Linked DNA regions of Homo sapiens. The protein of the gene in region 2 interacts with the protein of the main gene of each other region in a biochemical or structural test. Each region holds a gene or a part of one and is shown on either strand. Other genes may lie near its edges. The genes, in order: POLI and DEXI.

Region 1 (3,821 bases), on a different chromosome or scaffold from region 2:
TGTAAGAAAATTATATAAAAATAAATTTGCTTTAGGTGTAAAACAGTGTTGGAATGACATGAAACCATCCTAACCTCAAAGAGACTAACGCTAAAAGTATTTAGAGATGAAATGTCAGGATGTCTGCAATTTACTTCCAAATAGCTCATCAACCAACCAAGCAATCCATAGAGAGAACAAGAGAAAGCAAATGTGGCAAAACGATAACAACTGGTTTATCTACAAGAAAGGACATAATGGGCCAGGAGTAGTGGCTCATGCCTATAATCCCAGCACTTTGGGAGGCCAAGGCAAGCGGATCATCTGAGATTAGGAGTTCAAGACCAGCCTGGCCAACATGGTGAAACCCCGTCTCTACTAAAAATAAAAAAATTAGCCGGGTGTAGTGGCACATGCCTGTAGTCCCAGCTAGTCGGGAGGCTGAAGCAGGAGAATTGCTTGAACCCAGGAGGTGGAGGTTGCAGTGAGCCGAGATCACATCACTGCACTCCGGCCTGGGCGACAGAGTGAGACTCTGTCTCAAAAAAAAAAAAAAAAAAAGAAAAGACATAATGGGTATTTTTTGTACTATTCTGTCAACTTTTCTGTAGGTTTACAAAAAATTTTAATAAAATCTGTATGAAAGAGGAAGAATTAATCAATAATTCCACATTTCCCTTTTTGGGATATAAAACCTAGCTCTCTATAATGTACTCTAACCAATAAAATCCAAGTTTGCCTTAAAAATTATACAGAAATATATTTGAAATATTCTTGCTAGTTAGCCCTTTTAAGTTACAAATGAGCACAAGTACAAAAGATACAGGAAAAGCTCCATGTATTCTAGAAACTGTGGTTCTACTGCTTTTCTTCTGTGGAGAACTATTCTGTAGACCGATGTCTAGTTCTCAAAAAAGAGGATAAGAGGAAATGCATGGGGAGGCTTAAGAGCAAAAGGGTCAGACAAGTCTTACACAACAGCAGAGTACCTTGTCTTGTATGTGGTATGATAGGGGAGTCACCAGCAGAGTCATAAGATGTCTGAAAGCCTAATCAGATATTCACTGGTGCTTACTGCAGCTTATTTTCAAATGTAAATATCACTGGAAACACCATCAGTCATTCATATCTCAATATATGAAGGAGACAAACCATTCTGCTTTCTTGCTAACTTTGACAAAGATTATTTGAACAGATTAAATAGGAGCTTGGAGAAGATTCTAGCACATGGCAGATAGCCCTGGACAACATTCCAAAAGTGCTAACTTGGGAATTCAGAGAGCAACATGAGGGTCTCAGGGGAATCGAAGTGAACATGTAAAACACACATCAAAGGGGAATCGAAGGGAACATGTAAAAGACACATCAAAGGCAAATCTAGCCTACCTGAAAACTCTGCTTAGAGATTGTTTTAGAATAATAAAAAATTATTCCAAAAAGCATATTAAGAAGCCAACTCTTACAACTTAAGAATGACCTACAGAGGTATGGCTTTTTGTTTCCTTAAGAGATGGGATCTTGCTCTGTTGCCTAGGCTGGACTCAAACTCCTGGGTTCAAGCAATCTTCTCAGCTCAGTCTCCCAAACAGCTGGGACTACAGGGGCGCTCCACTGTGCCCAGCTGGGTATGGCTTTCTAAAATGGGAACCAATGCACTGTGTCAGACGAAAACTCTGCACAGATGAATGCTCTGTGCAGATGAACAGGAACAATGCTCTGTGCAAATGAAAAGTGCACAGAGCATTGAGCTACATGTCATCAAAATCTTAACACTTATTATGGAATAGCAGCACCTAATTTTAGCTGTCCTAGACAGATTACTGACTAAATATAACTATACCTCCAACAAAAGTCATGAATCTTTCAGAATCACACAGCGAACTCACTGAACATTAAGAAATGTATGTACTTTTGGTTAGTAGGTAGAATGAATAAGAACCCACTCACACTGATTATTGTATACATGACCCGACACAGTCACCGCAGAAAGTTCATCACTTTGCAGCTGCTGTAGTCTCTTCTCAACCATTTCTGTTAGATCCACAAAATTTTCATCAAATCCAAGTCTCTCAACAACTGGACTAAATTCTTCCAGTAATTCTAAATTGAAATAATATTGGAGCACAAATGTAAATGAAGTTATAACTAGGATAAATTTAACTATCTAGTGCTTAAAAATTTATCAAATTTATTGTTAAAGGTTTTATATACATTCATAGTTCCATAATATCTTTAATAAAGCCCTCAGTTAATTGACGTTTTTTCTGTACCACATCTTGTATAAAGGCAATATTTTCAAAAAAGTCTAAAAATGACATTCCTAGGGCAGTTATTCATGGCAATATATCTAGCTCAATCTTCTACACCTATAATTTTTATATCTGTAGTACATTAAATATCAATGCTTATAGTAAATTGGTGACCTTGAAGAAATGTGTCAAAGAATAAACTATAGGCTGCTCAGGAAAGTTAAAAACAAGTAATAGTATATTTTAGCTATATTTTCTCCAAGAGTTTAAAAGAGGCAAAACAAAATAATATTTAAAATGTCCAATTATTACTGAATAAAACAGAAAGTCAGTCAACTTTCAAAATATACTATAACGTGGTATTTTTATTAGCCATTCCCAAGAATATTCCTTAGGACAGAGAGGCAGAGATGAACCACAACTTACAGGTATTCAAATGCCCAGCGTCTAGCACAATATCTAGTCCTCAAGTCAAATGTTTACTAGATTAAGCTGAACCAAAATTCAAAATAAATTCAAAAAAACTATCAATTTTCATATATTAACATTGAGACTAATAACTTTAAAATCATTGAGAAAGTTTTTCACTTCCCTCTGAATCACTTTCTACTGACACCAGCTGGATAAGAGAAAACAAATGCAAGTCTCTTAGTATACAAAAATGCATAGATTCTTAAGGTCATATAATCTGAAGCTCAGAAATAAAAGGACTATCTCATTCCACATAGATCATGTTTTTTCACAAACACCAAAGGTGCTTTTTTGTTTTGTTGATGTCAACATTGACAATGTGAGGGGAAACCAATAAAGGTAACAATGTGACATGGCAAACACCAAAAATCACTCCTGAGAAAACTATTACCTAGAGAAAACTATTACCTCCTTTCAGGACAGACTGACAATATGTCTAATCAAAGAAAATGATTGTTTTGCATTTCCTTCATCAATTTCGGCAATTTATTTTCAAAAGTATATACCTGATATGCAAAGTAACATGTAGAAAACAAGAGTTTATCAAAAGAATACTACATAAGAAAAATAAAGGATAAGGCTTTAAGCACTAAATAGAAAAGCAAGTTAAATACAGAATCATGCACGAAGCTGGTGGATCACTAAATATTGACTGATTTTAGGTCACAGGACAAATCCCTAATTATCCCGTCCCTGAAGGTTTTTGTTGTTGCTGTAGTTTTAATGAGACAGGGTCTCACTGTTGCCCAGGCTGGAGTGGAGTAGCACACCACAGCTCAGTACAGCCTTGACCTCCTGGGCCCAAGCAATCCTCCTACCTCGGCCTCTGGGACTGCAGGCACATGCTACCAGCTAACTTTTTTTTTTTTTAACTTTTGTAGAGACAGGGTCTTGCTATGTTATATTGCCCAGACTGACCTCAAATGATACCCCACCACAGCCTCCCAAAGTGTTGGGATTACAGGCATAAGCCACCATGCCCAGCCTCCATTCCTGAAGTTAACCTCTTTCTTGGTATCAACTTCATAAGCAAGATACATTTATTAAACATATAATTATATAGGGCCCAAAAGAGGAGTCTGTAATTACAGAAAAAAAAAATACCTTGAAGAAAGGTATATA
Region 2 (3,821 bases):
CTGCAGCCTTGAACTCCCGGACTCAAGCAATCCTCCTGCCTGAGCCTTCCGAGTAACTGGGACTATGGGCGTGTACCACAACACCTCGCTATTTTTTTTTTCCTACTTTTTGTAGAGACGGGGTCTCACTATGTTGCCCAGGCTGGTTTCAAACTCAAGTGATCCTTCCACCTCAGCCTCTATAAAATTTGAATAAAGTTGTAGATGAGATTGGTCATAGGATTGTATAGTGTATCAATATTAGATTTGCTGATTTTGACAACCCTACTGTGGTTATGCAAATTTGTCCTTGTTCTAAGGAAATAAATACTGAATTATTTAGGAGTAAAGGTGCATAATGAACCCATTTTCAAATGCTTATGAAAATTACACATATACACATGTGTGCATATACACAGGCATGCATATACAAACAGAGGGAAGAGCATGCACGTGTACATGAGCAAAGTGCTAACTGGTGCAACTGGTGAGTTTGGGCGGGCATTGTTTGTGCTCTTGCAACTTTTCTGTAAGTGTGAAATTACTTCATAACAGAGGTTTTTGTTTGTTTGTTTGTTTTTAATTCAGGAAAAAGTTGGAAGAGTGCGTATGAAATAGGCCTGGCAGAAACTATGAGCTGGTGTTCCAAGGTCGGGGATGGGGAGCCCTCACTGGAGGCACCCCTCAAACCCTCAGTGCTGTGGCCAGGGAACCGGGCTGGCAGTCTTAGTTGGCTTTGTTCCCTCGGCCTCCACTTCCCCATTCTGTGCCTCCATTTATTTGTGAGACAGGGATAAAGAGGTCTGCCACTTTTATTGTGATCTTAGGTTTCCCAAAAGCCGAGTATGCTTTCAGAAGTTCTGGGAGGAAAGCTAGCAGATAAACCAGAAATATGAATATCCAAATTGAGAGAAGCCCTCACTTTCTTAGTTCGGCAAAACAGACACATGAGCTGTAAGTGGGGCAGACCCTGCCTGTTTCTTGGCTGAAATCTCCAGTTTGTATAATTCAGGGCTAAGAGAGCAGGACTCTTGACATCTCACTGTCTTGAGACACATACTGGGGTTTTCTCCTGTCTGAAGACGCAGCTGGCACCAATGTACCCTATGGCCAAGGACCTTCTGGGTGAGCCTCATGTCAGGAGCAGAGCTGGAGAGGTGGCCAGGCCTGGGGGTATACTTGCCTCCCTGTGTCACCATTGTCTGTCTCTTGCTTAGATGACAGCCACAGCTTCCTGGCCTGGTTTCCTGCATCCGCCCTGACCCCTGGCTGTGGGATCTCCCATAACTCAAATCTGACTGTGTCCCTGTGGAAGGTTTGGGTTTCTGACCTGGGCAGCTCTATGTCCGGCACAGGGGTTCTGCTGATAGCACAGGCCACAGATTGGCAAGGAGGGACCAGGTTAGGAAGGAGCAGCTGTGGTTCCTAGTTGGGAGATAACTGAAGCCTAGGAAATCCTGGAATAAGATAGACCAATGCATCGATAACCCTCAGCTCCAAATCTGAGCTGCACCAGGACAAGCTGACTCTGGTGGCAACGTTCTCCAGTCTCTGCATTTTCAGCTCGCTGTGTGCCAAGAGAGGGCTGGCAGGTACCAGCAGCTTTCACTTTCATTAGGAACCGGGACGAATAATCCAACTGAGCTGCCTCTGCACCAGAACTGCTGGGACGTGAAGACTCTCCCTGGCTCCCAGGCCAGCCACTGCAGCCCTTTCTCCTGGGAAGGAGGGAGCTCCCGATTCCCCATTCCCTGCTCCTGGGCAACAATTAACACTCTAGGAAAACCACAGAGCCGGCTATCCAGGGTTCTGGTGCCCTGGGGACCACAGGGCAGCAAGAAAGTTCTCCTAAGGGTCCTGGGGCTGGGAAGGCAGAGTGGGAAGTCTCCCCCAGCTAGGCTAGACCTGGACCTCCCTGGCACTCAGGCAGCCTGTCCTCTTCTGCTCACAGGATATAAATATTCATGCATGAGTATAGGTGCAGGTTTGTACATTTGCAAGGGCATGGGTATAACACGCTTTCCATTGTATCCGACTATGAATATGAGTGGTTAATATTAATACATCTCTTACTATATACAAGGAGATCTAAGTGCTTTATGTATATCTCACCTAATCCTCACAACAAGGGAGATTTTCATTATTTCCATCTTCTAGAAGAGGAAACCAAAGTACAGGGAGGTTAAGCAGCATGCCCAAGGTCACAGCTACCCTGGGATGTGAACCCAGGGCCCTGGCTCTTAACCATGACCCTAATACTGCCTCCTCAAGTAGGTGCTCAGCAAATGTTTGAGGAACTGAATTATGTGGGTCCACACATAAGAGAAAAAAAAAAAAAAGAGGGAGCAAAAGTAGGTGCACCTGTTCATCTTGAGATTCATCCTGGGCCCCACTGTGTGACATGCTCCACGCCCTTAGTCACTGTTTCCTGGATTGGCGTGTGGGGAACACATGTGACCACATGAGAATGGCTGAGAAAGAGCAGGACTGACTACCGGCGTTCCCCTGCTTATGGAAAGGGGCCTGGAGATGAGGCTCGGTCAGATCATCTTGAGGTCTTTCCTGGCGGCTTCCCTGCTGCTAGCTACCCCTCTCATACCCTGGGGTTCTGAGCTTCCTCGGCACTTGGGGGCAAGGCCTCCTTGGCTTGGATTTGAGGGTGGGGAGGAGGGAAGGCTGTGCATGGCTTCCACCACTTCTCCAGGCCTCCCCACTTCCCAGGGTCAGGCCCTGACACCCCGAGAGCTTTGCAAGGGTGTCCCTGAGAGATATTTCCTGGTGTTTCTGCTTAAACAGCGTTTGCTGCAAAATATGTCGAAGCATTTGGGATTCAGTTTTTAGTTCAGAATATGCCAATGTTTTCATTTGGAAGGGGAAGTGTTTCTGTTGATGTGGTAAAGAGATAAAATAAGACGTTCCTCACCAAGTTACACTGCTTCAAAGTCAAATGCTTGGCTTGGAGACAGGGATTTATCTTGGGATCGCAGGCCCTTAGCACACGGCCTGGCAGAAGAGCAGGCAGGGTCAAAGTCTGTTGAATGAGTGAGTGCATATGCAAAGGGCCTAGACACAGGAGTGCGATACAATCAATGCTCAGTACAGATTTTGAATGGATTCCATAGGTTCTACTTTTGAGAGTTGTTCTCAGTCTGTTCATGTTTCTCTATCTTCACTAAACTCCCCTCATCCAAGCCTCTGTCACCTCTGGCCTGGACAACTAACAGCATCTGAGGTGGTGGCCCTGCTTCCCCTCTTACCCCTCAGCTCATTCTGTCCACAATTGCCAGAGTCATTTTTGCAAAATGGGAATGGGATTGTGTCATCTCCTGCCTAGAACCTTCCAATGGCTTTCCACTGCTCTTGGCTATGGCCTTCCAGGTCCTCCATGGTATGGCTCCCACCCACCTCACTGACCTTTCCTGGGGCTGTTCTCCAGCCACATGGGCCTCCTTTTGGTTGCGGAAAAACCAACTCTCTCTCACCTGAAGGTCTTGGCACCACTGATTCCCTCAGCCTGGACTGCTTTTCTCCAGATCCTTCTATCAAATTAAGGCTCAGCTCAAAAGCATCATCTCCTTAGAGAGGCTTTCTCTGACCCCTCAGCTAAAGCAGCCCACCATCTCTATCCTACCGTTTCACTTCTGTTTCACTCCATGTCTACACCTACAGAGACCGTCTACTAGAGGCCAGGCACAGTTTTAAGTGTTGAGGACATGGCAGTGAACACAACAGGGAAGCTCATGTCCTTCTTGCCTGCCTTCATAGTTCCGAAAAAATCTGATTCTCTTGTTTGGGTTCCTACTAGTCTTCCTCACCAAGTGCCAAAGGGCCAAGGCTTGGTC

The links.
Region 1: the proteins of DEXI (region 2) and POLI form a complex in vitro, tested with the Homo sapiens proteins (one large-scale study listed by BioGRID).

What each region holds. Positions count from the first base shown.
Region 1 is NC_000018.10:54,275,961-54,279,781, reverse strand, and holds part of POLI (DNA polymerase iota isoform a (long)), read right to left. Parts: intron 2,080-3,821; coding exon 1,927-2,079; intron 1-1,926. UniProt on the Homo sapiens protein: Error-prone DNA polymerase specifically involved in DNA repair. Plays an important role in translesion synthesis, where the normal high-fidelity DNA polymerases cannot proceed and DNA synthesis stalls. Favors Hoogsteen base-pairing in the active site.
Region 2 is NC_000016.10:10,936,066-10,939,886, forward strand, and holds part of DEXI (dexamethasone-induced protein), read right to left. Parts: intron 2,057-3,821; exon of another isoform or gene 568-2,056; intron 330-567; exon of another isoform or gene 1-329.